2 separate regions of the Homo sapiens genome follow, and region 1 is linked to region 2. Evidence: fine-mapped expression QTL. A gene starts in region 2. The other region holds a variant in brackets. All regions are shown on one strand. Distances are between the middles of the regions. Region 1 has its middle 44 kb from the start of FAM184A. Region 2 holds the start of ASF1A (anti-silencing function 1A histone chaperone).

Evidence for each region. PIP is the estimated chance that this variant, and not a neighbour inherited with it, causes the effect.
Region 1: its variant is fine-mapped to the expression of ASF1A in whole blood (INTERVAL, PIP 0.92).

What each region holds. Positions count from the first base shown.
Region 1 is chr6:119,114,736-119,130,459 of GRCh38, forward strand. It overlaps a transcript of FAM184A not described here. Among named protein-coding and RNA genes, the nearest start is that of FAM184A, 44 kb to the left of the region's middle. The variant C/T (reference allele first, on the strand shown) is at 12,254.
Region 2 is chr6:118,887,309-118,903,341 of GRCh38, forward strand. It overlaps ASF1A (anti-silencing function 1A histone chaperone), which reads left to right and starts at 6,844. Exons shown (of 4, transcript NM_014034.3): 1 at 6,844-7,214; 2 at 13,458-13,573. The coding sequence starts at 7,106. The region is part of intron 8 of MCM9 (minichromosome maintenance 9 homologous recombination repair factor); the gene reads right to left. RefSeq lists silencers at 6,579-6,718, 7,509-8,038 and an enhancer at 7,039-7,128.

The sequences.
Region 1 (15,724 bases), 230 kb after region 2:
TTCACCATGTTGGCCAGGCTGGTCTTGAATGCCTGGGATCAAGCATTGGCCTCCCAAAATGCTAGGATGGCCTTGGCCTCCCAAAATGCTAGGATGACATGAGTGAGCTACTGTGCCTAGCGTTTATTTTGTATATTGAGACAAGGTCTCACTCTGTCTCCCAGGCTGGAGTGCAGTGGCACAATCATAGCTCACTGCAGCCTCAACCTCTTGGACTCAAGCAATCCTCCCACTGCAGCCTTCCGAGTAGCTGGGAGCATTTTTTCAGGTGCTTATTGATCATTTGTATATATTCTTTGGAGAAATATCTATTCAAATCCTTTGCCAATTTTTCAATTTTTAGATAAATATTCACTTAATGTTCCAAATGATTTATAAATTTGTCTTCTTCCAAAATATTTCTGATGGTCTTCATTTTTCCATCAACCATATTTAAACTGGTCACAAAGAAACTGTTTATTCCACAGCTCAAATAAAATTGAATTTTCATATTCCAACAATATTTAAATATAGTTCATTCAATAACCATTTATTAATTATTTTATTTTAGGCACAGAGGAAAGGGAAATAAATAAGATACGGCTCATATGCCTAATAATTCTGTTCTGATCACCCTGCAGAAGTAGGATAGACCCCCATCCGGAACTTGATTCAGATGTCAAGACTGATGATGTGACTGGGCGAGGTGGCTCATGCCCGTAAACCTGGCACTTTGGGAGGCCAAGGCAGGAGGATAGCTTGAGACCAGGAGCTCGAGACCACCATGGGCAAAATAGTGAGATCCTGTCTCTAATTAAAAAATAAAAAATAATTTTAAAAGACTGATGATGCCACACATACATCAAGAAGTTATGAAAGGTTTGTTACTTACATAATGAGGCTTTCTGAGTACAGCAGGTCAAGTTTCCCAAGCTGGTTCAAATGGCTTAAGAGAGCAGGGTATATGGCAGGGTGTGGTGGCTCATGCCTGTAGTCTCAGTACTTTGGGAGGCTGAGGCAGGTGGATCACCTGAGGTCAGGAGTTTGAGACCAGCCTGACCAACATGGTGAAACCCCATCTCTACTAAAAATACAAAAAAAAAAAATAGCCTGGTATGGTGGCACACGCTTGTAGTCCCAGCTACTCGGGAGGCTGAGGCAGGAGAATCACTTGAACCCAGGAGGTGGAGGTTGCAGTGAGCTGAGATGGCGCCACTGCACTCCAGCCTGGGTGACAGAGAAAGACTCCGTCTCAAACACACACACACACACACACACACACACACACACACATACACACACACAACGAGAGAGAGAGAGAGCAGGGACTAGAGACTGTCTTGGGGCTTTATGGTGGTTAGGAGATGGGGCCACAGTGAGGGTTTCCCTGTTGAGGGTTTGAATTTCCTATCAGCTCCAAAGGAGAGAGAGCATGGCTTTTTGTAATGGCTTGCTCAGAGGTGGGGGCAGAAGGGGAAAAGGGACTGGTGGGCTTGAAAACTTCCAGTAGTCCATTATCCTAAGTGATCTAACACAAAGGCAAAAAACCAGATACCGCATGTCCTCATTTATAAGTGGGAGCTAAACACTAAGTACACATGATCATAAAGATGGGAACAATAGCCACTGGGGATCACTAGATGAGGGAGGGAGGGGGGCATGGGCTAAAGGACCCCATGTTGGGTACTATGCCTATGACCTGAACGACAGGATCGTTGGGACCTCAAGCCTCAGTGTCACACAGTTTACCCATATAACAAATCTGCATGTGTACCCTTAATCTACAATAAGTTGAAACCTGTTTTTAAAAAAGAAAACTTTCAGTAGTCAGACATAAAAAATAGACTCAGGCTCTTTATTACAAATCCCAGTCTAGTGGAGGAGAAAAGCAGGTGAATCAATAAAAACATTACAAGGCGATAAATGTCCACAGTGCTGTGCAAGTCCAGAGAAATGAGTGTCCAGCTGCCTGTGGAAGACTTCATAAAACTGGCATTGACTGGATCTCAAAGGGAAGAAGACTCTCTCAAAGCAGAGAAGGATTAAGGAGGACAGGAGGAATTTTCAGGCTTAGGGAACAGTATTTGGAAAATCACAGATATATGAAAGTGCATAGTGTATTCTGAAAACAATCCACAGTCCCTTTGTAAAGAGTAAGGGGCATCTGGAGAGGAAGCAGAGGCCAGAAGAGGACCCTGGGGAGGAAGTGTGTGTATGTGAGATGAGCTCTGTATGGCATTCTAAATGTTTTGACTTTATCCTTTGGAAAACAGGAAAGCCTCCCAGACAGGATAGTATCTGCATTTTAGAAATATTATTCAGGTCTCAGGAGAATTGGTGAGTGACCAAGTAGAACTACCAGGTGCGACCAGCAGGGGACACGATTGCAATCATCGAGTTTGGAGGCTAGGAGGACATTAACCAAGGCTAGGGGATTGGGAGTGGGCATAGATTTGGGAGACAAGTCTGTGGATCATTTTGTGTGTAAGGGTGAGAGAGAGTGAGAAACAAACTCTTGGGATTTTAACTTGGACTACTGGGAATCAGGAATGATCAACAGATTTCTGATTTTGGTGACCATGTACATAGTGGTGCCCTTAACTAGGCTAGGAAACAGGGAAGAGGGAAGAAGAAATAGTGAGATCCATGTAGAGAATGTTCAATTAGCAATGCCCTGGCAGGGCTTCCTGGCTAGTCCTTTTCGTACTTAAAGTTGTCAGTAGGCCATACTGCCACACAATACATTTGAGTACAGCAATGTATAATCGGACCCTAACCCAGGCGGCCTCTTCCACTGTGGTCACCTTGAGAGGCTATATCAGTTCTGTTGCTGCTGTCAGAGGCCCCATTGCTTTGAACATGCCTGCGACTCAGAGGTAAGACCTGCTTCTTACGTACCTTCACGGTTTATGAAGTACTTTATCTTAGGTGAACCTCAAAACAACCCTGTGAAGTATACAGTAGGATTATCATTTTTTACAGATAACAAAACAGACTCAAAGAGGTTGCTTCTCTAGTTCACATGGTTAGAAATGGAGGACTTGAACCCTCCTTTTTAGTGATTAATTTAATTGGTTGAGGATTTGTAGGACCTGAAAGTTTAGCTAGGTGTGTGGAGTCTGCCTTTTAGTGCAAGTTTAGCCAGCCAAGGGTTGAGAGAAACAGGCAGGGGTGGGGGTATCCCAGAAGCAGGACCAGTCAGGGACTCAGTTACAGGAGAGAAGCAGTCAGGGACCAGAGAGCTGGAGGCAGGGTCTAAATTCTGGATCACCCAGAGGGTCAAGAAGAGATGAAGTGACACCAAAGATCACTCAGATTTTAAGGCAGAAACTTTGCTTTCTGGATTGCTGTATATGGCCTTTGGGGCATGGGAAGCTCTGACCTGCAGTTATTAATTAAGCCAGGACCTTTCCATAGATGCAGAAGTTTGGTCTTCCACAATCAAGGATAATTCTTATTTTTTATAATAATGAAAAACTGGAGTGAATGTAAAACAGTACACTGGCTCCACCATTCACTAGCTATAAAATTAATTTAACATTCATTTCTTCCTATGTAAAATGTGAGCATAAAAATCACTGATCTCCTAAAGTTGTTGTCAGTATTAAATAAGACAATATATATAAAGGGCTTAGAATAATACTTAGCTCATATTAAACACTCAATAATAGTTACCTTTATTATTGTGGGAAATGATCTCAACAGAGTTTATAAAGCTATTATGTTTCTCATGAGTTGTTGCGGGAAGTCAGGGACCCCAAACAGAGGGACTGGCTGAAGCCATGGTGGAAGAACATGAATTGTGAAGATTTCATTGACATTTATTAGATCCCCAAATTAATATTTTTATAATTTCTTACGCCTGTCTTTACTGCAATCTCTGAACATAAATTGTGAAGATTTCATGGACACTTATCACTTCCCCAATCAATACCCTTGTGATTTCCTATGCCTATCTTTACTTTAATCTCCTAATCCCATCATTTTCGTAAGCTGAGGAGGATGTATGTCATCTCAGGACCCTGTGATGATTGCGTTAACAGCACAAATTGTTTGTAGAGCATATGTGTCTGAACAATATGAAATCTGGGCACCTTGAAAAAAAAACAAGATAACAGCAGTGTTCAGGGAACAAGAGAGGTAACCTTAAACTGACCGCCAGTGAGCTGGGCAGAACAGAGCCATATTTCTCTTCTTTCAAAAGCAAATGGGAGAAATATCGCTGAATTCTTTTTCTCAGCAAGGAACATCCCTGAGAAAGAGAATGCATCCCTAAGGGTAGGCCTCTGAAACGGCCCCCTTGGGTGCGGCTGTCTTCTATGGTCGAAACTGTAGGGATGAAATAAGCCCCAGTCTCCCATAGCGCCCCCAGGCTTATTAGGATGAGGAAATTCCCGCCTAATAAATTTTGGTCAGACTGGTTGTCTGCTGTCAAACCCTGTCTCCCGATAAGATGTTATCAATGACAATGCGTGCCAAAACTTCATTAGCAATTTTAATTTCGCCCCGGTCCTGTGGTCCTGCGATCTCGCCCTGCCTCCATTTGCCTTGTGATAGTGTATTACCTTGTGAAGCACGTGATCTCTGTGACCCACACCCTATTCGTACGCTCCCTCCTCTTTTGAAAATCACTAATAAAAACTTGCTGGTTTTACAGCTCAGGGGGCATCACAGAAACTACCGACATGTGAAGTCTCCCCCGGACACCCAGCTTTAAAATTTCTCTCTTTTGTACTCTGTCCCTTTATTTCTCAAACCGGCCAGTGCTTAGGGAAAATAGAAAAGAACCCATGTGAAATCGGGGGCAGGTTCCCCTGATAATGAGTTTGTAATAAGATGGCATACTTTAAAAATTGTTAGTATATGAACACAAAATAACCACAACTATAAAATTAAGAAAAAAAGAGACTGGAAAAAACTTCTCCAACATGTCATCAGTTTTTGCCTTTTTAAAAAAAGTAATAGCTATATTGAGGCTAGGTGTCGTGGCTCATGCCTGTAAACCCAGCACTTTGGGAGACAGAGGCAGGAGGATTACTTGAGTCCAGGAGTTCAAGACTGGCCTGAGCAAGATGGTGAGATTCTGTCTCTACAAAATACAAAAAAATAAAAAAATAAAAAATAAAAATTCGTAGGGCATGGTGGTTTATGCCTGTAGTCCCAGGAGGCTGAGTTGAGAGGATTGCTTGAGCCCAGGAGGTCGAGGCTGCAGTGAGCCATGATTGTGCCGCTGCAGCACAGCATGGGTGACACAGCAAGACCCTGCCCCAAATGATAATAATAATAGTCTTATTGAGACATAATTCACGTACCCTAAAATTCACTCTTCTAAAGTATACAGTTCACAGTCAGTTGTTTTTAGCATATTCACAGAATTGTGCAAGCATCACCAGCATCTAATTTTAGAAGGTTGCATCACTGCAAAAAGAAACCCTGCACCCATTTGCTGTTACTCATAATCCGCTTGTTCTTCCCAGCCCCTGGCAACCACTAATCTACTTTCTCTACGGATTTGCCTGTGGTGGACATTTGATAGAAGTGACATCATACAATATATGGTATTCTGTATCTTTCAGGAAACATAATGTTTTCAAGGTTTATCCATGTTTTAGTACGTATCTATATTCATTCCTCTTTATGGCCAGATAATACTCCATTGTATAGACACACTACATATTGTATAGACACTGTCCTTCAGTTGATGGACCTTTGAGTTTTTTCTACTTTGGGGCTATTATGCTGCCATCAGTATTAGTGTTCAAATGTGTGGACAAATGTTTTCGGTTCTCTTGAGTATATACACAGAGGTGGAGTTGCTGTGTCATATGGTAACTCTATGTTTCACATTTTAAGGAACTCCCAACTGTTTTCTAAAGTGGCTGTACTATTTTACAATCCCGCTAACAACGTATGAGGGTTCAAATTTCTCCATATCCTCATCAACACTTACTATGGTCTGTCTTATTAAATACAGCCATCCTAATGGGTGTGAAATAGGATCTAGTGGCAGAGCTGTTTCTATTTGAGTGGAGAAATGTATTACTTTTTTTTTTCACTCAATTTTATGGACTAAAATAAAGTGATGGTTTTTCTCTTTCTTTCTTTCTTTCTTCCTTTCTTTCTTTCTTTCTTTCTTTTTTTTTTTTTTTAGGAGACAGGGTCTTGTTCTGTTGCCCAGGCTGGAGTGCAGTGGCATGCTCATCCTGCCTCAAACTCCTGTGTAGCTAGGACTGTATGCAGGTACCACTGCATCTGAAAAACTTTCTTTTTTTTTTTGTAGAGATGAAGTCTTGATATGATGCCCAGACTGCTGTTGAACTCCTGGCCTCCAGTAATCCTCCCACATTGGCCACTCAAAGTACTGGGATTATAGGTGTGAGCCACCACACCTAGCCCTGTATTATATTTTTAATAGGAAAGTTTTTCATTTGTTTTGAGACAGGGTCTCACTCTGTCACTCAGGCTGGAGTGCAGTGGCAAGATCATGGCTCACTTTAGCCTCAACCTCCTGGGCTCAAGAGATCCTCCCACCTCAGCCTTCCAAGTAGCTGGGCCTACAGGTGCATGTCATCATACCTGGCTAATTTTTGTATTTTTTGTAGAATAAAGATAGGGTTTTGCCATGTTGCCCAGGCTGGTCTCAAACTCTTGAGCTCAAGCAGTCAGCCCACCTGGGCCTCCCAAATTGTTGGGATTATAGGCGTGAGCCACCGTGCCTGGCCTTTTAAAATTCTTTTTTAAGGAAAATTAAATCCATAAGCAGTATGAGAGTTTTAGTTTGAGTGCCATTTCCGTTAATTTTAAATAGTCCCTGAAATTGCATAATCCAGAAATTAACAAAACTTAATGATGTCAGCAAATTTGAAGTGGCATCTTTTCTTATTTATAAATATTTTAGCAGCACTGACATTCTAATGAGGACATCTAAGATATTTGCTGTCAGTTGAGTGATTATTTGGTATTTAAGTGTAAATTAACCCATCAGCTATATCACTTATATCCGGCTTCATGCTAAATAGTTTAGGAGGCTAAGTGGTTTGAGAATAAGGCAAAGTGATTTCTTAAAAAGGCATGAAGATCTGAACTGTCAGTTAAAAAGAACAGTATTGAACGCTGCTTTACCAAGATAAGTGACACAGTGCTTAACATAATTTGGCCCTATTTATTATCCTTTCTATGTAGACTCTTGGTAACTTTTTATTTTATTTATTTACTTGTTTGTTTCTTTACTTATTTATTTTTATAGAGATGCAGTTGTTGGCCAGGGTGGTCTCAAACTCCTGGCCTCAAGCAGTCCTCCCACCTCGGCCTCCCAAAGTGCTGGGATTACAGGCAGGAGCCACCATGACCAGCTTGGAACTTTTTAGTGCAACTCTTTTCTATCAGAGTGAATTAATTAATCCATCTCTTTGGAGTGCTACTGCTCTTTCTCTGTGGGGATATAGATCTTTCTAGAAGCACTACAGAGACAGCCCTCTCCATTCTGGACCTCCAGCCTTAGTGGTCAGGGAGAAGCGGAAAAAGGCCTCTGAAGGGAATGTCTTGCATTAATAGGGTTTCTAGAGGAATTCAGATATTGTTGGTCTAACAAGAGCAAGCTCCTTTTTTATGCCTCTGCTGTGTTAACTTAAAAAAAATACAATTTATCAATTTAGAAGAGTAGAAGAGGAGACTTTATTTTTTACAAAGGGTTGTAGCCAGCAAGGTGGCCTTTCTGACAGTCTGGGAAGCATAGTCTGTGGCCAGAAGCCAGAAACAGATACTTCAGAGGAGGGCAAAAGGAACAGGAATGTATGCCAAGTAGAGAGGTCAAACATACATATTCAATAAGCTGTAAAAGGAGTCATGAATATTTATGAAAGGAGAAACGTGCACATGCACAACTGAGCTTCCTGCTTCTTCTCCATGTTCAAAAAATGGCATTGGGAGGGGCGCGGTGGCTCCTGCCTGTAATCCCAGCACTTTGGAAGGCTGAAGGGGGTGGATTGCTTGAGTTCAGGAGTTCAACACCGACCTGGGCAACATGGCAAAACCCTGGCTCTACAAAAAATACAAAAATTAGCTGGGCATGGTAGCATGCATCTACTCGGGTCCCAGCTACTCGGGAGGCTGAGGTGGGAGGACTGCTTGAACCTGGGAGGTGGAGGTTGCAGTAAGCCGAGATCATGCCACTGTACTCCAGCCTGAGCAACGGAGGAAGACCCTGTCTGAAAAAAAAAAAAAAAAAAAAAAAAAAAAAAAAAAAAAAAAAAGGCAGTGATCTGAGGGTGGAGTTTTCAGTCCTCTAATGTCACAAAGTGAAGCAGAGGACATGAAAACCCTTACTGTGCATTCTCCATGGACTGGCCAGAACCACTCCATGGTCTGTGGTCTCAGGCAAAACAGTAGGGGCAGGCGGGGGGATGGTTCACACCGGTAATCCCAGCACTTTGGGAAGTGGAGGTGGGCAGATCACTTGAGGTCAGAAATTTTGAGACCAGCCTGGCCAACATGGTGAAACCCCATCTCTACTAAAAATATAAAAATTAGCCGGGCCTGGTGGTGTAGGCCTGTAATCCTATCTACTAGGGAGCCTGAGGCAGGAGAATCACTTGAAACTGGGAGGTGGAGGTTGCAGTGAGCCGAGATCATGCCACTGCACTCTACCTTGGGCGACAGAGTGAGACTCCATCTCAAAAATACCAAAAAACAAACAAACAAACAAAAACAAAAACAGTAGGGGCAGTGTTGGGTGGTTGGTTCACGTCAGGGGTAACATGATTTTAAACATGATTTAAATGTTTAAATCAAGCCAATAATGATTATAACTATTCCATTGGCTTTAACTTTTGAAAGTGTTGAGTTCTGTTAGGCCCTTAGGGAAGAAAGCCCAATCATGGTTGGCAAGGAAGGGAGTCTGACCCCGGCTCCCATCAGGGCCGAGAACTCTGTTTTCAACGTTACTCAGGGGTCCCCTTGGCAAAGAGATGATCCATTCAGTCCGTTGGAGGCTTGGAGTTTTATTTTTAGTTTACCATTGTTTATGTTGACAAGTTGATTGCTGTTTATGCTATTTGCAGTATGTATAGGTGTTTGGGTCACAGAATCTTAAGAAATAAATATGGACAGTTATATACTGTAGAGAAATATATTCAGAAACATTTGTTTCCTCTCTACTCTATTTTAAATTTGAAGTTAGCCATTTGCTGATTGTGCCATTACATTACAGTTGTAAAATGCAAGTTTAGATACATCTTCAGACACAAACATTTACAAAGCACACTCCAAGATACAACTTTGCACACTCCCAAAACATAGTGACTATTGCTATTTATGGAACTCTATGTTGCTGGTTATAATATCCACTTTGAAATTTCTCATTTTATTCTTTTTTTAAATTTAAAATATTCTCAGTTATTCATAGTCTTAGCCAATCAGTATTTATGCAGTTAAAGATGACAGCTAAAGAAATATTTTAGTTCAAAGGATTTTTATCTTTTGTTTCATTTGGTTTAATTATCTGGCCTCAAACAACTTAAATTCTGGCAGCATTGCTCTTACTCTAGTTCTTAGCCTTGAAAACTTCTTATATATGTCAACTATGTAAATAGCTTTACAGTATCAACATTCTTCTTGTAAGTTCAACAACTTTTATTGACTGGCAATGTTTTATGTAAATTGTAGAGTTATGTTGAAACTTATAAGGCATCTCTTAAATGTTTAAATCAAGGCAATAATGATTATAACTATCCCATTGGCTTTAACTTTCTGCCAGTAATTGTAATTATAATTTTAAAAATCTACATTTATTTATAAAATTTTACCTGGGGGTGTAAAAGCCTTCTCATACTCTATTAAAAAGACCATTATATGCTGTTAAAATGAGTCATGCTGAAATCATTGCTTACAAAGGGTTCATCTAAATGATAATGGGTATAATAAGGAAGTTACAACCTGGTAGTAGAGGTCTTTTTTTCCATCTGGCAAATCTAATAAAACGTGAAAAGACATTAAGTCATGAACAAACACCCAATTAGAAGATCAAATAAACTATGGCCCTAATTTTTTTTTTTTATATCTTTAAAGTACTTTTGGTAACAATTATTAATCTGTATATTCCAAGTAGATACAACCTCAGAAACTTTATAATACAACATTTGTTTTTAGCTTTCATGAGGTTATGTAGCTGATGAGAGAGATAAACATTTTGCCACAGGAAAATGCATATGTGCTTACTTGATTTTACATAAAAATCCCAGGGATCCACAGTTCCCTAGAACTCCTGTTATTATATTGTATTATGTATTGTAATTAAGCTAATTTTTACTAACGCTTTGAAAGTGCCTTGAAAGGTGTTATTTACAAATCATTCTTTATAAACATTGTTGTAGCTTGATATTCAGGCATTTTAATTCATATCCAGGCAGTTGTATCTATTAATAGTTTTTTAGAATAAGCTTTCAGAAAATTTGTATGTAAGTCTGGTCTATGACTTCAAACAGCTTTATTAATCAATCAACATATGTATGGTTAATAATTACTGTCTGGATCTCTTTCAGCAAGTCCAATAACAAAATATTATTTCCTTCTTTTTTCTTTTTGAGATGGAGTCTTGCTCTGTCACCCAGGCTGGAGTGCAATGGCGTGGCTTGGCTCACTGCAACCTCCGCCTCCCAGGTTTAAGTGATTCTCCTGCCTCAGCCTCCCGAGTAGCTGGGACTATAGGTCGGGACTATGCCTGGCTAATTTTTGTATTTTTAGTAGAGATGAGGTTTCACTGTGTTGTCCAGGCTGGTCTCGAACTCCTGACCTCGTGATCTAGCCGCCTTGGCTTCCCAATGTGCTAGGTGTTATTTCCTTATTTTAAAGCTCATTTCTTTACATTCATTGAAGAGTTGGTTATAAACCTAGACGGACACACCAATTTGCATACCATTGTTGGATAGCATGAGTTTTCTGGCATATACATATCTAAACTTTGCAGCCACAACTGGCAGACTACTTTTACATTCCCAGAAGAGTTGATCTAATTATACAGTGGACCAATAGGTCAACTTTCTGTGAGGAGTTTCCAGAGTCTTGCTCATCGTATGTGCCCAGAGAAGTTGTTGGAAGCAACTAGCAAGCCAGCAAGTGGAGGACTTCCTGGTAGCACTCCAGCCACTCAGAGTTGTAAAATTTCCCTGAATATGATCTGTTGTAGTTTCAGTGTAGAGGGTCTATTCATTTTCTATTACTGCATAACTAATTACCATAAATTTAATGGCTTAAAACAACAGCTTATTAGCTCACAGTTCTACAGGTTAGAAGTCCAGACATGACACAGCTAGGTTCCTTGTTCAGGGTCTCACAGGAATAAAATTAAGGTGTCAGCGAGGGCTGTGATTCTAATCTGAGGCTTGGGGTCATCCAAAGTTATTCAGGTTGTTGGCAGGATCTTGTTCCCTGTGGTTGTAGGACTGTGATTGCCACCTTCTTGCTCACAGAGTTGCTCTCAGCTTCTGTGGGCTGCCCACTGTTCCCTACCATGTGGCACCTTCATCATAAAAAGTCAGCAATGGAGAATCTCCTTTGCATGAAATCTCCCTCATGCTTCGAATTTCTCTTTCCAGGAAGAGCCCAGTCACTTTAAGGACTCATCTGATTAGGTCAGGCCCACCAAAGATGTTCTCCCTGAAACAGGAAATTTTCCCTGACCCCTTTGCAGCAGGTGGGAACTGGACTGTGGGCACTGGAGCTAGCTAGCTGCTTTGGCTGGCTTCACTTGCTTGGATCCACTGCACTCCAGCCCTAGTGGGACGGGGAGTGTAGCTGAGTGGGTGCAAGAGCCAGGGCGAGTGCTTCCGGGCACCGGCAAGAGCAAAACTCTGTGCAGGCCCCATGGCAACATCTAGAGGGGGAGTACCTGTGACTCCTGAAGCCCCAGAAGGAGTGTTAACAGTCAGTGCTCTTTTAGTTTTGCTGTCCACGGACAGCTTATGTGTTTAAAGGCTCAGTGAAGCCTCTGCCTTTTTGTGCGGGCAGAGGGTCAGTGTGTTAGCCTTCTGTACCCCGAGCTCTTGTCTGGCATCCAGGAAAAATCAGGTCTCACAAATGAATTTAAGGATAGTAAATGTGGGGGATTTTATTGCCAATGGAAGTGGCTCTCAGCAGGAAGGGGAGCTGGAAAAGGGATGGAGTGGAAAAATATTCTTCCCCTGAAGTCTGGCTGTCTCTGGCCGGACTCTGAAGTCCCATCATCAAGCCATCCCTCTGAAGTCAAGCTGCTTCTCCCCGATGTCCAGCTGTTTCTTCT[C/T]CTCTCAATGTTCAGCTGTTTCCTTTTCTCTGCCAGCTGGGTCAGGGGTTTTTATGAGTGCAGGATGGTGGGTGGGACAGGCCATGGGTGGTTTTGGAAAAAGGCAACATTCAAGTGGGAAAACAGGAATGCATGTTCTCACTTTGGGCTGTGGTTCCAGGCTCGAGGGTGGGGCCCTTGCCGGGAACCCCACCCTTTTATGCCTAGAATTTCTCTGCCTCCTGTCCCTATCACCCTTATCTTAAGGTCAACTGATTTGGGCCTCAAATTTCACCTGCAAATCCCTTCACAGTAGCACCTAGGTTAGTGTTTGATTGAAAAACTGGGAAAAGGTGTGTGCACACTAGTGGTGGTGAGGTATCTTGGAGGACACCTTAGAATTCTACCTACCACAGTGGAAGGGCAGGGCCTAGGATCTGACAGGGGAAAAGAGTAGCTAGGACTGTTTTCTACTCTTTAGAAAAAATATCTAAACACATGCAAATTGTGAGAGGACATATCCTGGGTAACTGTCAATGCTGGTAAACCTCATAGAAAGAGACTTTGCCCAAGACTTGGGAAACATGCCCCTGCCACTATCTAATTATGTGATCCCGGTCAAATGATTTAACTTCTCTGGGTTTGGAGCTGAGAGAACCGAATGGATCAGGAATTCCCTACCAGGTAGGAAAGCAGGAGGGAAGCAGCTACCCTAAAGTCAGCTGGGGAGCTTTTTCAAAGCAAGCATTTCTCCTTCCTTCCCAAGATGTCATAACAGTTGGGAGTGGGGAGAGAAAGGTTGAGAAGGGAGGCATGAGTATGTGCAGTGTGGAATTGTTCTTCAGGTCATTCCATCATTCATGCATTCATTCATTCATTCATTCATTCAACAAACATTCATTGACCGTCTACTTTGTGTCAAACACTGTGTTAAGCACTGATAATGTTAGAGTTGTAAATCAAAAATAAAATTCTAAGCCCCTCAACCAACTAAATGGACCCCCTGCTTGGCCCAGGAGATCCCAAAGAAACCTGAAACACTAGTTCAGGCCATGACTGGAAGGTGGAGGTAGAGTAGCCAGACATGCCTCCTTATAACCTCCTCCCTTTGGAGTTTAGGCACAACTGACTACCATTAACATTAAAACAGAGATCTTAAGACTGACAAACAGACTCTTTGTAGCAGTAAGGTATGCAAACCCAGGTTTGGCTGCTAACCCCTGGAAAACCAGACATGAGAGACAAGAATTGGTGGGAAGAAAAGCAGGCTTCTTTGGAAAGCCCGCAAAACCAAGAAGATGGTGGACTAGTCACAAAGACCATCTTAAATTTTAAAATTTTATCATAGGGTTTTTAAAGGGAAACTTGGTATGGGAGATGTGAGGGACTAGTGCAGGATGAAGGGTCTGTATGTTTGTTCTGATGGTTATCTTGGGTAATTGCCTATCTGGAAGTATGTTTGGCATTATTTTGTCTTGGGCCAGATGGTGGTGGACTAATTGTTTGAGACTCCTTCTAAGCAGGATGATTAAGCAGGGGCTCTGTGCCTGGTTTGTTTCAAGATTATCTTCTGAAATTTCTTAAGCAAGAACATAATTAGATAAACATGAGTTACTGGAGAGGAGTGTCTAGAGAGGGAGGGAATAAAAGGGTGAGTGGGGAGGGAAGGAAGAAAAAGAAAATGTGTGATTAAAAATATTTTTAAAACTGAGGCCCCCAGTTACAATAAAATACCAAATTCTAACCTGACTCTGGTATAGCATCGCATGGCAGATAGCAGGCCTGGAAGGAAATCAAGGTATTTTACCCCCAAATATATTTCTTTGACATATTTTGAAATGGTCCTGCAAAGCTGTCTCCTGTGGATGGGGGAGGGGCCCTGGAATTTGCATTCTGTAGAGAATCCCCTTCCCTTACTAGTTTTTTTTTTTCCGGAGAGCCTGACACCTTTTAAGGTCCAATAAAAAACACTGTCTATTCTCTCTGAAGCCTGCTACCTGGAGGCTTCATTTATAAGAACCTTAGCTTCACAATCTCCCTTAACTCAAGCATTTCTTTGTGCTGACTTTAAACTCTTCAGGCAAAACTCAACTCTTTCAACCAATTGCCAATCAGGAAGTCTTTGAATCTACCTATAACCTGGAAGCCCCTCTCTCCCAGATGTCGCACCTTTCCAGGTCGAACCAATGTGTACCTTACATGTATTGATTTATGTCTTTGCCTGCAACTTCTGTCCCCCTAAAATGTAAGAAAACCAAGCTGTAACCCAACCACTTTGAGCACATGTTCTCAGGACCTCCTGAGGATCTGTGGCTGGGCAGAGACACCTAAATGTGATCTGCAGAGGATTGCATAGAGAAAGCTCTGCCTGTGGCTGACATACTGAGAACTAACCTGGGCGCCTTACAGCAAAACCATCCATGAAGCAGATGTGGTGGGGCTTTCCTGATCTTTTAGGGCCCAGATGCATTTCACTGAGATGCATGTTGCCTTTTTCTGAAAGCGTCTCATAATTAGTCTTTACATGTGTTTCAATCTGGTTTCACACTCGTTAACTGCTTAAATTGTAGAAAGCGCATTTTATTTCAGTCCACTAGGGGGAACCAGAGGGATTAGGCATTGGAGCTAACAAGCCTTTAACATTCTTAATACTGTAATTAGAGAAATTTCTAGGGGTTCTCAAAGTGAGCTGACTTTGAGAGAGCTGAATAGGGGGGTGTTTTTTGGTTTCATTTTTGTGTTTTGTGTGTGTGTGTGGGGGGTTGTTATTGTTGTTTTCTTTTTAACTTATTTGCATAAAAGACTATTTTTTAGAGCAATTTTAGGTTCACAGCAACATTGAACAGAAGGGGAGTTTAGAAATATGTAGATTTCCAGCCCTTGCCCCCAATCCACAAAATCAGAAGCTTTGGGGATGTGGCCCAGAAATCTCTATTGTAAAGGTTGGTGGAATATCTGCCTTTGGCAAAAATCTACTTAATTATATAAACTTTAAGCCCACCAGGGGCAGGGACACACTGCAAGTTCCTAGCATCCACAGCAAGATGTACAAACAGAGGCTCGCAAGGTTTTAAACATTTTTTTTTAAAGATAGAGGTGAAATACTTGGAGATTGTCAATATTTGGAGTATGAGTCATATATTTTTCCATGTCAATATTTGGAATATGAGTCATATATTTTTCCAGTTGAACAACTTCAACTGTTAAGCAGAATCCACATAATTTACTTAGAGCCCAAGGAAAATCTGAAAACCACCATTTGAGGAAGACTTCCGGCTCCAGAAATGAAATTTTAGGGAGCCCCCAAATCAGAAAACAGTATATTGTTTCTGAAATAAGCATTTAATGAAAGACTGACAGATTCCTGTAGATCTTATCCAGACTCAGGGAATAGAAATAAATGCCCTAGATTCAATTGCCATTAGACACAGATGTTTCCATAGTATCAAATACATTCTGGCACACTGGCCAACAGACACAAGTTGGAGTTAC
Region 2 (16,033 bases):
ATTGTCCAGAAATAGACCCATACATTTAAGGTCAATTCATTCTGAGAAAGGTTCCAAGCCAATTCATTAGGAAAATAGTCTTTTCAACAGATGCTGCTGGGAAACTGGACAAGCACATGCAAAAGTATGAATTTGGACCCCTTCACACCATATACAAAAATTAATTCAAACTTGATCAAAGACCCAAATGTAAGGTGCTAAAAGAATAAAACTCTTAGAAGAAAACTCAGGTGTAAATCCTCATGACGCTGGATTAGGCAATGGTTTTTGAGAAATGACATCAAAAGCACAATCCAACATAACGAAAATAGATTAAATGGGCATCATCAAAATTAAAAGCTTTTACACTGCAAAGGACACCACCAAGAAAATTAAAAGATAATCCAAACAACTAGAGAAACTTCTTGCAAATCATGTGTTTGACAAAAGACCTGTATGTAGAACACATAAGGAACTCTTACAACTCAATGATAAAAAGACAGATGACCCAATTTTCAAAATAGGCAAAGAGCTGGCATGGTGGCATGCTCCTGTAGTTCCATCTACTCAGGAGGTTGAGGTGGGAAGATCACTTGAGCCCAGGAGTTCAAGTCCAGCCAGGGCAACAGAGTGAGACTCCGTCTGTATTTTTTAAAAAAGGGGTGAAGGGAGTGGTTAAGGATCTGAATGGACAGTTCTCCACAGAAGATATACATAGGGCCAATAAGCATATGAAAGATGCTTAACATCTTTAGCCATCAGGGAAATATAGACCAAAACCACAATGAGATACTATGTCACACACCACCATGGCTATAATCAAAAAGACAGAACAGCAAGTGTTGGTGGGAATGTGGAGAAATTAGAATGCTGGTGGGAATGTAAAATGGTACACCTGCTTTAAAAAACAGTCTGGTGGCCGGGCATGGTGGCTCATGCCTGTAATCCCAGCACTTTGGGAGGCAGAGGTGGGCGGATCACAAGGTCAGTAGATCGAGACCATCCTGGCTAACACCGTAAAACCCCGTCTCTACTAAAAATACAAAAAAATTAGCCGGGTGTGGTGGCGGGCGCCTGTAGTCCCAGCTACTCGGGAGGCTAAGGCAGGAGAATGGTGTGAACCTGGGAGGCAGAGCTTGCAGTGAGCCGAGATCACGCCACTGCACTCCAGCCTGGGTGACAGAGTGAGACTCGTCTCAAAACAAACAGACAAACAAACAGAAAACCAGTCTGGTAGCTCCTAAAAAGGAGTTACAATATCTTACCCAGCAATTCCACTCCTAAGCATAAACCTAGAAAAATGAAAACATTTGTCCCATCCCATGCAAAAATTTGTACACATATGTTAATAGCAGCATTTTGTGTAATAGCCAAAAAGTAGAAACCACCTAGATGTCCATCAACTGACAGATAAATAAAACGTGGTATACCTATACAATGGAAAATTATTGGGTAATAAAAAGGAATAAAGCATCAATATATAACACAACATGAAAGAAGCATCAAAAACATTATGCTTCAAAGATGCTGGTCATAAAAGACTACATATTATAAGATTCCGTTTATATGAAATGTCTAGAATAGGCAAAACTATAGAGACAAAAAGTAATTCAGTGCTTGCCTACTGCTTGGGGGATATGCTGGGGAGGGGGATGTGCTAAAGGCTACAAAGCTTCTTTTTGAGATCATGAAAATACTCTAAAATTGATTGTGATGATGGTTGCACACCTCTGAATATTCTAAAAACTATTGACTCAGATGCTTCAAATGAGTGAATTACATGTTATGTGAATTCTATCTCAACAAAGCTGTTACCTGAAAAATATTACTGTGTAATCATACCAGGGGGTACTTAGAGGTGGATTCTTTGCATGCCGGATTCAAAGCCTTATCAGGCACAAATTCTACCAACCAAATTTCTACCAATTAATTACCTATTAGCTCATTTGTGAAGCATTTCCCCTCCCTATCCTTTCTGGTTTTTGACTCTTTCTAAATGACCATGCATATGAGGCCTCCAATCTCACAAAGCCTACATGCCTAGCTTCTGCCAAGCGTCACTCCATCTAATGTCATTTGTCTCTATAGTAACCAACTAGAAAAGCTGCTATGCTTAGTAATGGCTTTGTACGAGCAGTGGTCTAGCCTAGAGATGTTTTAAAGATTTGAGTCCTCTCTACCGATTACTGTTTTTTTTCCTGGTATTAAAAAGTGAACCTCTGATGAATGAGAGCAGTAGAGGGTTAGAGAGAAAAGGATGGAATATATTATAAAACATGAAGGAAGATGGACTGCAAGTAGAGACTTGAGTTCAAGAGGAAACGAGTTTAGAAAGACCTTGATTGATAAGAGGACTAAGAAGACACAGACAAAAAACTAGGTATAAGAAACAGAAAATAATTATTAGGCATTTCCCTTCAAAATGGTCAAAAACAACATAATGATATACACACCAAGAAACTGTCAATAAATGTAATTACAGTGCTTCAGAAAGCTGACTGATGTAACCTATGGCTATGCAAAAGGTGTTTTACAGTATAGTCCAGCTATGGATAAGGGATCAGATATAGCTTATACCTTCAACAAACTTCTAACACAATGATGGGTAGAAAAGAACACAAAACAGTGAAACTTTTATTAATGACGTGGAGCAGAGAAGGGGAGAGGGTACGCTATGTAACAGACATGGAAACCTTATAAAAAGTATAAGGATGCATTCCAGGATGTGTAGCTCCATCCCCCACACCTTCCAAGGGATGCCTTTTTCAACAGGAGGCTTGACATCTGTAGTACCCCGTGGGGAGCCTCCCCCAGCTTTGCCTTGGCTGGGTCTCCTTCTCTCTCCCAGTATACACCTGGACCAACCTCATTAATGGAGCTTTGTTCCTCAAGAGTTCATTAATCAAGTCATTACTGGAGTGTCCGCCAGCCTGTGGGTTCTTCCAGAAAATGATACCAATCTATTTTTTCTACATACAAAGCCCACTTTAAAATTTACTTGACATGGTAGAGAGTACAAAGGTACTAGGACAGCCATCAGAGGAATGGGTTTCTGAGCAGCAGCATCCTCATTTGTTATATGGGATGATATCTTACCCTCCTGCCATTCCTGTTTGTGAGGCTCAAAAACAGGTATTTTAAAGTTTTTTACAAATTGTCAAGAAAACATTTTTTCTTTTGCCTATTTTAACATAACTGGTTACAGGTGCATCTAACACTTTCTATTTCGCATCATACTTATTTGATTAGTTACCTTTCCTACTGAACCATAAGGTCTTTGTATGTCTTATCTTTGACTATTTCTCACAGAGCCTAGCATAAAAATTTCACATAACAAATGCTCTCTGTATGTATGTAATGAATTATTATTGAAATCATTATTGTACAATTTACTCCATTTAGAAATGTCTATGAACTCCATCAAATCTCTAGTCTATATTTATACAGAAAATTTTATTTAAAACTATCATTAAATTTTGACATCCTATTTCTAATAAATAAAAAGGAGCCTCTTAAACTAACTAAAGACCATATTAAAACAAGCCTTACATGAGGAATTTTTTTAAGTTGGTAATAATACAAATGAGAAGACAATTCAACACAGTGATTACCCGAGGTGGAAATCTAGATTTGAACAAAAGCTAGAGGTTAGTACTTCCATTCCTATGATAACTTTTGCAGTAGACACGGGCTGACACTCAATTTAATTCCTAGTTCTAATGTATTTTAATTTGGCACATTTTGATTTAATTCAATTTTAGTATATTTGAATTCGCTCTTTCATCTTGTTTTGTGTATGACCTCAATTTGACTTCAAGTTTCACTTCTCTGTAGAGGAGTCTTGAATCCATGCAAGTAAGCTGCATCTTGTGTCTTCAGAATTCAAGCTATATGCCCAGTGGTATATACTTCCTCTGAAGAATGGCAACAGCACACCACTCCACATACGCCACACCCTTACTGGCATGGCTAAAGGACCACATCATTTCACCCACAGGAAGTGCTTGGGAACTGACCAATATTTGGATTCAGTAAGATTAGATGCTCAAATAAGCTTAATTCTGAGGGGAAAAATATCTTATAGCTATATTAGGTTGTTAGAGCTGCCATAACAAAATATCACTCACTGGGTGGCTTAAACAATAGAAATTTACTTTCTCACAGTTCTGGAAGCTAGAAATCCAAGATCAAGGTGTTGGCAGGTTTGGTTTATTCTAAAGCCTCTTTGCTTGGCTTGCAAATGGCCACCTTTTTGCTGTGTTTCCTCTGTGTGCGTGTGACCCTTGTGCTTCTCTGTAAATCTAAATTTCCCCTTGTGAGGACGCCAGCTAGATTAGATTAGGGCCCACCCCAATCACCTCATTTAACTTAATCTCCAAATACAGTCACATTCTGAGGTACTAGGGATTAGTGCTTCAACATACGAATTTGGGGGAGACATAATTCAGTCTAAAACAACAACTAACTAGTTTCATGTATTTCTGCCCTAAGCACTAGTTTAGGCTTTGTTCTGTTCATCTTAGAGCCGATAAAATCTCTCTCAGCCATCCTTCCCCCAAGTAACCCATAGTGAGAAGTGATTGGGGGATTACATTCCATGCAGCCCTCCAAACATTATGTGGGACCCCCTTGGGTACTTAATAAAGACATTCACAGTGACCCATCTGTTGTACAATTAGATGTTTGGGAGTCACCAAAGTTGTTCAGCAACAAGTCCTACTGATTGCCTCTGAAACCAGAGAGAGGCTTTCACAATTCTTTTTTTCCTACAGCATACCAGTTAAATTAGAAATATGCCAGGACATATCTGAGGAATCCTTTCGGTCTCTCCTGGAGTAAGGTAGTATCAATGGTGAGGAAACTATTGAACAAAGTGCTCAACGACCCTTTAGTATTTCTGACAAGCAATAATACAAGAGTTAAGACAGGAGAAGCCTGGAGCTAATTCTTGCAGCTTCCAGTGAAATGTTGGGGAGTTTTTTCTTCTTAAATACTGTTGCATATGATGTGTTAAACAAAAAATTTTAAAGAAAATAAGCCAAATTAGTGGCATTCAGGTAGATCTTCTCAGTCCTTCATGCTGCACATCCACCAAAAGTGAGTTTTACAACTAGTCTCATTGTAACACTTACGGTCAGACTGCAAAATGCACGTGATTTTAACAAGCATAAAATGTCGTTTTCATGAGACTGACTAGACTCTCCTCTTAAGAGTACCTGTAATAATCAGACAACTGCATACACCAGTCTCACAGGAGTTTTAATCTTCAAATGGTCATTTTATCTTACATATACAGAGTGTCTTACAGCATACAGCAATTTCCACTTTATCTGCTAGTGTTAGGACCAGCACTAATAAGAATGAAGAGTATGTTGTTTATCAGCCACAAAAATCTGTGTCTATCACCATGGTTTGACTCTTAATACTCTAATGTCACAAACAACTGGCTTGAAGAAGTGTTTTTTGGTAGGTCCTATATCTAACTGTTCAATCCACTGACAAAAAAAGGGAACTCTTCCCCACTCTAACCGGTTTTCCTAAATGTACGAGGGGTTGACATTAGCTGTCTCACATTAACTTTCAAAAGACCATCAGATGAAAACGTTTCATCAAAAGCCACCTACTTAAGTATGAACAATGACCAAAGAATGACAAATCAAAATTCTGGGCACTATACTAAGAGAAAACTCTTCCAGAACACATACTTAAGAATTAATTTTCTCTCTGAATTTGGCCAAGTTTGGTGGTTTCATTCACAACATTTAAGGAAAAAAATGATGGTTTATGGCTAGCAGATAATAAAACAAACCTTTATACCACTTACTAAATAGAAACGGTTTAGGCTCACAAATATGTTAAAGCTTTCTCTTTCCCCGCAATGGTAGCCAAGCAGCATAAACGAATCAACATTTCCTCAGTTCAGACCTCAACTGGTTACAGGCAAGCAAGGGCTCCTCAGAATTTGCTTTACTAACGGTTTAGGTCAGAAATTTTTTTGAAGATCAAATGTCTTGCTATGTCTTTGTGTTCTTTTTCCCATCTCTATTACGTTTGTTGCCCTGTTGGTCTCCTAACACTTCCATTTTCTCCTTTTATGTTCCTGCTATGCTCTCCAAATGGCAGTAACCTGAAGTATAACTGATCACACCTCTTGTGATTTTTTTTTATTCTAGGACTTCCCAGATCTGGACTCCGAAGAAGACGCCCAGGTGCAAGCCCAAAGGTTACCTATTTAAATTTTCCAAGCACAGTGTGTAGAAAATCATTCCTCGCCCTTCATTTTGTGTTGCTTAACGGCGCTGTCGTGCCTAAACGTAGATACTGGCCAAGAGCTAGATTTCCAAAATGGCTTTGCTCCTTTCGAGCTGACATCGGTCTATAACATGCAATTTATTTCCCCTGCAGCCAATCTTTCTCTCTACTCCAAATACTACCCGATACGCAGAAAGCTGAACCTAACCCAGTGTAAACACCGACTCTCATCTGCTAAATTCAGCAAGGCCGGCAAAGCTGTTGCACTGATGTAAAAAGAGCGTTAAATCAAAAAACCAAAAAAACAAAAAAAAAAACAAAAAAACGCCAAAACACCCACACGAAGCCAACTGGAGGGGCGGGCGTCGGCCGGATCGCGCCCTCCCGCCGCAGCCACGCCTCCCCGCCGCGGCCACGCCCCCTCCGCCCCTCTCCGCGCCGCCGCCGGCGGCCTCCGCGCGGGCCTCCCAGCCCTTATTCCACTCACTTTGTTCTCCGCCTTTGTCCTAATCCACACCAGCAGGTGGAGCCGCAGTTAAAGTTTCCGAGTCCATTCCGGGAGCGGGAGCCCATCTTGCTGGCTGCCGAGGCCCTCGCTGGAGGAGGAGGGTCAGAACTCGGGTGCAGCCAATCGAGGGCAACGCTGCTACTTATCAGAGCAGAATGGGCTGTAGTTTAGTGAAATAGGAAAGCTGCAAAACACTGTGGAGTGCTCCCGTGTAAATAAAAAGAGGAAAAAAGTTTCTCAAGTCGCCGCTGCACGACGTCTGGCCGGCGCTGGAGCGGGGGTCTGCGCTCTCCCGAGCGGCCGCGCGCTGGACTTTATTGTGCCGCAACCAGCCCCAGTTCCCATTGTTTGTGTTTTTTTCAAAATATGGCAAAGGTTCAGGTGAACAATGTAGTGGTGCTGGATAACCCTTCTCCTTTCTACAACCCGTTCCAGTTCGAGATCACCTTCGAGTGCATCGAGGACCTGTCTGAAGGTGAGTGCGGCGCCCGTGCGCCCGGGCTGTCAGTTGCGGGCTGCAGACGTTGAAAGTTTCCCGGGCCGGGCCTCGCGCTGGGCGGCTGTGTTCGGCGCCTGGCGGCCGCGGGCTGCTCTGCGGAGGGAAACTTGAAGTTGATGGACGACGGCCGCCGAGGCGCGCGCGGCTTTCCGCCGCAGCCCAGGCGCCTGCCGGGCTCAACTTGCGAGGAACTTGTTTGAGCGGAGGAGCGGAGGTAGCCATGTTGTCAGCTTTGTCTGCGGGCGGGCAGCTCGGAGACCCGCACTCGCTCCCGCTGCGCCGCCTGAGGTCGCGCCGGGCTGGCTCCGCGCCGCCAACAGCCTCCGCGACCCTCCGGGCCCGAGCACGGAGGCTGGGAAGGGAGAGGCTGTGCGTGTGGTCGCGCCGGCGAGTTCGGAGCGGAGCCATCTTACCCCGAGTCGAGAATTGGGCCAGCGACCCCGGCGCACGGCGCCTCCTCTTGCCCCGCCGCCCGCCTGCCCCCGGCGAAAGGCAGGCAGGCACTCTCGAGAGCTCACGGTGGAGTCGCCGCACTCTCCGGGCTGGCCATGCCTGGCCGCTTCGGGGAGGAGAGCGAGGCTGTCCTCGCGCTGATTTCTGGCTTCCTCGACCAACCAGCGGGGGAGGCGGGCGCAGGCTCGGCCCCTCCGCGCCGCGGGCTGGGCGCCGGCGCTCCCCGGGGGCCGTGGGTCCTGTTCGGCCGGTCCTCCTCGGCCGGCGCCCGGGATGCGCCGGGATGCTGGCGCGCAGGCTCCCCAACCAACGTGGACTCCTTTCCCCTAATGACGAAAAGCTAATTTCAGGAAGAGAAATAGAGCTGAGGTAGGAAGTTACATTTAACCTAAAAGCAGAAATAAGATACTTAAATAATTTCCAGGACTTAATCTCTGCCTTATAAATAGTCTGAAGGAAGACTTTCTTCAAGACCGTGTTGAAATCTAAAATAACTCCACATCCAAATACAGAACACACCCTAAACATAAAACACAAACGTAGGCTAGGAAATTAAGGTCAACTCCTCATGTCAGTCCAAGAATTCTTGGTATTTTTTCTACATATATTTTAAGGTCTTAAAAATACGTATTTTTAATATCTTTAGTAATAAATATTTAGAAAGCTAAAACGACAATTATCTTTGCTTTAATTATCTTTTACTAAAGTAATTCAGTGCTTCATTTGCCAGTTTTGAAGGGGAAATAGTTTAACTTCATCGATGAGGGACATACTTTGAACTAGAAGTATATGTAAAAAATGCATTGAAGATGATTTAGGTAATCGTGGCATGTAAAACTTTTCATTTTAAAAACTAGTTTTTAATCTCTAAAATGTATATATCATATGTAAGGTTAATTTTAATTATAAAACAATATATATTCATTGTAATAAACTTTTAGAAAGTTGTACAGGCATATATAAAGTTAACAGTTCTCTGTACTCAGTGCCTTGCCCTATCTCCTTTCGGTAATCACAATTATTACTTTAACATGTGCCCCCGTTTTTTTTTTTTTTTTAAACCTATATAGAGCATAAATGCACATACATATATAGGGCAAATTTTGAAAGATGATTCATTTATTAAAATAATTTCAAATAGGCCATTGATAACACTAAGGGGTATTTTTCTTATTACTCTGAAGTCATTTGATTACTCTCCTATGATACTACTATTAATATAAGCATTGCAGCTACCAGGCCCATTTTTCACACCCAACAGTAATTTTTTTTTTATTGCCAACTGCATATAAAAATAGACAAAAGAAAAACCATTGATCGGTCCATTCCAACTTATACCACACTGTTTTTCAGATATACCACCAGAAGTTCTTCAAATTACAGGTATTTCTCAAGTGTTGCCTTCCATTTTAGGAGTCAGCTCTGAACAAAGAAGATAGATGACTCAGGATGTCGTTACAGGGCTTTTACATTGCATAGATGAAACCAGCCATTCATAAAGCCAAAACGTTCCATTTTTAACTGGGATCCATTCAGAACCCAGCTGAATCACATCAGGGATTTACAGTACTGGTGTCAAAAACATACTTATTTCCAATGGTATATTTCACTTCCTAGGCACCATTACTGAGCATTTATTTAGTATTTTAAAAAATATTTTAAGCTGAGTCATACTGAAGCTGCAAAGGAATCTTTCAAAAAGGTGCCATGCCTGTATACTCCACCTAGAGGCTATGTGGATTAAGGAAATTTTTACTTAGCAAAGGCTTCTAATAGGTTCCATACTTTTATATTACAGTTCTTTTAAAAATTCTGTTCTTAAAATTAAACTATAGAATTTTTTTTTTTTTAAATGAGACAGTGTTGCTCTGGCACTCAGGCTGGATGGAGTACAGTGGTGCAAACACAGCTGCTCCCTGCAGCCTCAACCTGGGCTTAAGCAATCCTCCCACCTTAGCCTCCTGAATAGCTGGGACCATAGTCGATGTGCCACCACATTGGGCTAATTTTTTAATTTTTTGTAGAGACGGAGTTTTGCCATGTTGCCCAAGCTGGTCTCGAACCCCTGGGCTCAAGCAGTCCTCCCACCCCTGCCTCCCATAGTGTTGTGATTATAGTGAGCCCACTGCACCCAGCCCAAACTATAGAATATTTTGAAAAGAATTTTCTTAATAAGTTATTTTGCCTCAAGTCTCAAAGCAGAGTTTGGCCACCGTTTTTCATACTTTCATCAGTAGCCCCAAACGTTCACTTTCCTTTAAGAGCTGCCCTGTAGCTTTGCTTCAGAAAAAGCCTTGAGGAATATTTGGTCTTAAGATAATTTGGTTCTTTCTAATATAGGGCTTATATCAAGGGTTAAGACAGCCTGAGACCCTGGCTGGATGTGCTTGATGGTCACCAAGACTGTACAAGTTTTGATTGACCATCCTGCCATTCTTAAATTTATATATATATATATCTTAATTACAGCTACTGTCAATTGAATACTTATAATATACCAGAATTGAGCATGGTGCTTCATACTTTCCAACTTCAGCTTGTTCTAATTCCAAAGCCTACATACTTTCCACTAGACCACAGGTCTTCCCAAGTAGTGTAATTAGCTAAAAATTCTCTTGATGACTTCCCTCATTCACTCACTCTTTCACCACAAATGTAAATACTTTCAGGCTGGGTAAATCATTTAATCATGATTACTGTGATTAAATAAAAGTTAACTTTAAAATAAATGAACAAATTTCTTCACCTGAGAACTTATGTAAAACATCTGACCTTACCCTTCCTCCCTCAAATACAGGGGGCAGAGGAATTAAATGAAAGCTGGGTTAAAAAAAAAAACAACAAAAAAACTGATGCCAATGTATAAAAGGGTATTGAGCATGTAAAACTCAGCAACTGTAGCAAGCATCCCATAAACATAAAAATCAATGTACAAGTGTTCCCTGAGTTGCAGCCTGTTCTTGTTAAGGCTAGATTCTCTCTCCATCTCCTCTGCTCTCACTTCCCCTGCAAATAAATTCCCTTATTCCACTGCTAATTTCAGAGCTAGAAAGAATTTATCTTCCCAGTTAGGTTTTCAGAAGAAGCCCGGGGTTTGTAGTTACAGAGGCATAGCTTGGATTCTGATTCTTTGATGTACAAATTATGAATTTGTGTAGATTACTTAACCTCTCAGAGTCTCAAGTTATTTGCATAATGGGGATAATTTGATCTACATGATGAAGCTGTTGAGGTTTAAACAATAGGTATGAAGTAGAACTAATGCCCAGTATATAGTAGGTATTTTCTAAAATAGGTTTATAAATTATGGCTATGTTCCTATGCCAGTCCACAAATGCGAATTTATACCACTTAGGATCAAGGGCATTATATGTAGTGATACAATTATATATGAAATTAAAATTCATGAAAACCTTTATGTAATAATTTTTTTTTTTTTTTTTTGGAGACAATCTCGTTCCATTGCCCAGGCTGGAGTGCAGTGGCGCGATCTCGGCTCACTGCAACCTCCGCCTCCAGGGTTCAGGCGATTCTTGTGCCTCAGCCTCCCGAGTAGCTGGGACCACAGGCATGTGCCACCCCTAATTTTTGTACTTTTAGTAGAGATGGGGTTTCACCATGTTTGCCAGGCTGGTCTCGAACTCCTGACCTCAAGCCATCCAGCCACCTTAGCCTCCCACAATGCTGGGATTACAGGCGTGAGCCACTGCGCCCAGCCACTCTATGTGATAATTCTTAGTCTTATCCTCACTTGGCTAGTTTAGTACCTTTCACATCACTTTCTTAAAACAGTTTCTTCACTTGGCTTTTGGGTCACCTACCTCATTTGCCACTTGTTTTGTAACTTAATTTGTCCTCTTATCTTTGGAGGGCTCAAATCTCACTCCCTAGAGCAAGCCCATGTATTTTTATGGCTTTACATATCATTGACAGGTTCCAAATTTTTATCCTGCCTATTCAGTATCTCTGCTTAGAAGCAGACATCTCAAATATGTCTAAAATGAACTCCTGATTGCTCCCCTACCCCACATCACCTCCCTGCAAAAGTGGCTCCTGCTGCTTTCATCTTCAGGATTTTATCCAGAATATAACTGTTGCACAGCCCCATGGCCACACGAGGTCCATGCCACCATAATTTCTTGCCTCAATTATTGAAATATTGTTTCTTCCCTTGTCCTCTTACACTCTATATTGAACACAGCAATCAAAGCATTCCTTTTAAAATGAAAGTTGGCTCCTGTTACTGCTCTGCTCAAAACCCTTCGATGGCTTCCCATGCCACGCAGTGTGAAAGCCAGAGTCCTTATGATGGCCTTCAAAACCGCATGATCTGGCTGTTCCCCTCATCCTCAATCATAGGGTTTGGTGCTTTCCTCCTTCCTTTCATTCTGCTCCAGCCCTAGCCTCCTTGCTTTTTCTTGCCAAGTGTGCCCTACCCCTGGGCCTTTGTATTTGCTGTTCCCTCTGGCGAGATACTTATATTGCCTACTTCCTCTCTATCTCCATCAACAGATGATCTCAGGAGATGTCAGATGCAGCACCCTGCATCTGGAAGTGTGCTGGAAGCTGGAAATAGAAATGGTTTAGTTCTAGGACAGAGCCATGACATAATAGGTCCTCAGAAAATGATTGCTGACTTAATAAGAGAAAATAAAAAAGGAGCTTTCAGTTGATTGTAGTTTACAATACAATATAAATAAGCAGTACGTTACTATTTCTATTATCAATTTAGGGAACAAAAATATCTACAGTTACACAAAAATGGCCACACATGGTGGCACTAACTAGATTGTCATGAGTGACCCAGAAACTCACCCTTTGGGAGTGCTTGTGTAACAGTGTGTTGAATGCAAGAGGCAGGCCACACAGTGCAAAATACCCAAAGAAGATGAAGAGGTCTCTCAGAGATGGTTTGTATTACAAAGTTATCTTCTTCCTCAGCTAAACAGGAGACTCCTCCAAAGAGTTCTACTCATCTCTGGGTTCACTTCACAGAACACATTGTAAAACATGCTCAGTAAAATCCGCTATATTGAATTACATATAACGCCTTGAATTGCACCTGAATGTCTTTTCCTCCTGCCTATCTCCACTGTGTATACTCTATTGTATCACGTGGTGTAAAGATCTTGGTTTCCTCTGCCCAATTTAAAGAATGTATGACACAGGGGGGTGCCGTAAGGGAAAAACCCTACCATTGTTCGTTGACAGTTGATGAGCTGAAGCCACTTACTTCTGAGCCATGAGGGAGGTTTTACTAATAATTTTTCTACTTTGGAGCTCTGTGATTATTTGGATCTCTGCAGCGTAGTATAGGGCTGCCCTTCCAAAGTGTGTTGAGAAGGGCCTTAAAAGATGATATACAAAAAAAGGGGGATTCCATAGCCAAATAAATTTGGGAAGTGCTGGATTAATGTTACTGGTGTTCTTTACTGAAGGATATCTCAGAAAACTTACTGTGCCAGCATGCTTTATGAATCCTCAAGACAAGGTTTACAGCATTTCCCAAGTGTTTGGCTATGTTATCTTGTTTGTGAGGCACTGTCCAGGAACTAGTGTTTCACAAAAGAGTATTTTGAGAAACTCTGATCAAAGTGTGAACTCTGGTAGGAACTTTATAAGGAGCATTTCACTGCCTTTCTGGATTGCTATGAGAAGCCAATTTTAAAGCCAGTAAGTGGCTAAGTGGACATTAAAAGGGTCTTTGATGTCATCTGGTAATGTAATTACTGAATATGAAATAATGCTTTGGTTTTTTAACCCTAGACTTGGAATGGAAAATTATCTATGTGGGCTCTGCAGAAAGTGAAGAATACGATCAAGTTTTAGACTCTGTTTTAGTGGGTCCTGTTCCCGCAGGAAGGCATATGTTTGTATTTCAGGTAAGATTAATCTTGGTAAATGTGTATGCCAAATATGTTTCGAAGTAGACTATATTATCTATTATCTTATAACCCTTATCCCTTTCCTTTTGGGTTAAAGAACTGCTTCTGCTGCATTCACTTTAAATCTGTTTCCATCATGTTTTAGGCAGTCTCTGTGTCACAGAGGAACTCTTACTTCCTGGTTTTATATGCTGAGAGATGTTAATGTGACGTTTACTTTAGAGAGATGAACAACCTACAGTAAATTTTATACTGTATCATGGCACACAGGGTGGTGAATTTGGGGCTCTTCCTGTGAATAGCACCTCAGTATCAGACTTCCAAGGTGGCTGTCTAGCAACCCAAAACATGGATTCAAAATATCTAAAACTAACTGGCATTGTTAGTAATATGCATCTTCAGTTTATGGTTTCAGCCACTGGAACTGATGGTGATGTAACAAAAACAACTTTATTTCAGCATAATCAGTAGTTGAGCTAGGTTAACAGATACGTTTAGTGGATAGAGATGTGTGGTCTTGGGTCATTGGAATGACATTCCAGAGTTTACTAAAGCATCTTATAATCTACATTATCTTATAAGAGGACTACTTTTGCAAATTTACTACCCCACTAGGTATTTGTGAAGAGAATTTCTAGTAATAAAAATTTTGTTCTTAGATACCACTGAGAGTATTTGGATCTATACCAAGGCTTCAGACATTGTCTTCTATATTCAAAAGTGTTATTTCTTTTAATCCATGTTAAATTGCTATATGGAACCATTCAGTTATTCCTCAATTATGCATGCTTATTTATAAGGGAGATGTTTGTAATAGACCAAAGAGTAACTAGCCATAGGTTTTTTAAAACTACTATTAATTTCTGTTACAAGTATTTCAACCCAGCAATGTCCCATCAGTTAAGTGGAACTCACTGAAAAGACTTAATCCAGAAAGAAAATCTAACTCTTCCTATGCCTGACCTCTGTTTTCTCACTTCACAGATGGGACCAATTTAAATGAATACCATTGGTCAAATAATCCCATCAGAAACTGGCAAAGAATCACTTAGACACATGCCATCTCTAGAGCTGCTACCTTTCCCTCCCCTGTCCTAAATACAGAATTTAGAATCTTGGTTTCCTAGCCTTAGTACTTTTGATTAAAAAGCAACAAATAATTTACTGTATCTAAAGAAATAGCTAAGAAAAGCTCAAATATACTAATCAAATATATGAATTAAAAGTGCTGTTAATCAAAGTTGTGTGAGTGCATAACCATGTAAAAGACATGGGTAACAGAATGCCCTGTTCTGTAGAAGGAAGCACTGCAGTTATAGATATAGGTCAAATCCCGACACCTCTGTATTAGCCATGTGTGGCTTTACCTCTCTAACCTCCTCCCTTAGTCATTCCAGTCTTCTATAAAATGTGGATAATATTCTATCTCATTAAAATGTTATGGGGAATAAAACAGTATAATCAGTCACTCATAAAGAGTGCCCTATTCCTAAAATTAGAACTACATTTTTATTCTCTTAACTTCTTGAAATTGTTATATAAAAAAGCAGGACTTGCTCTGACCCACAGGCCTAAGGAACCCATACTTTACTGATAATTCATGATACAGTAAAAGAAACCTGGGTTGACAGGTACTGATAATACTTTTTTTTTTTTTTTTTTGGCTACTATAAGAACTTACAAATAAATGCCTTGTTATTGAAACAAACCCTTGAAAATCTTTTGTGTTTGTTATTAAGCATACTCCTAAGCTTTTGGCTGAAAGTGCTGTAGCAAAAAAAATGTATTCAAAAGTATTTCCTGCTGGTGATCTTCACGTAGTTTTACCTTGGTGTCAGTGTACATGTTGCCAAAAAGAACAGAGGAGGTACAATGTATATTCAGCCTAAAGGTTTTACAGAATTCACCATTATCAACAGAAAGAGACTAAATTACAGCTTTTGTTTTGTATTTTAAAACTACTATAGTAATCTCTTGGTCTGCCATGATTTTGCCTCTCTAAATAGTTAAACATGTCTTTCTTCTGAGTGAGTCAAAGGCTAGCAGGAAGATGTCCAGACATCTGCCTAGTATTGCCAGCTAGAGTCAAAACAAAGATCTCTGCTCATTACTTCTGCATCCTAAATTATTTGAAAGGCCTGTAAGCTTCTCTACTTAAATTTGCTCAAACTGAATCTTTTTCAAATTGTAAAATGCTTTTTAAAAGATGTTTTATATTTACAACAGATTTTAAAACAGAAACATGCCTAGAACCAATTTACTGAAGGGAACCAATTTACTGAAGGGAAGGGGAAGAGTTCTCATAGCAGTACTGAACTATTATATATTTCCCATCTCCACCCACTTCAGGTATATTAGAATCCGTTTGGGTACACTGAAAGTAATCTAACCCCTCTGTGCAGGGGTGTGTAGAATCTCTAAGACAAACAGCATATTCTCCAGGACAAGGCTGGCTGT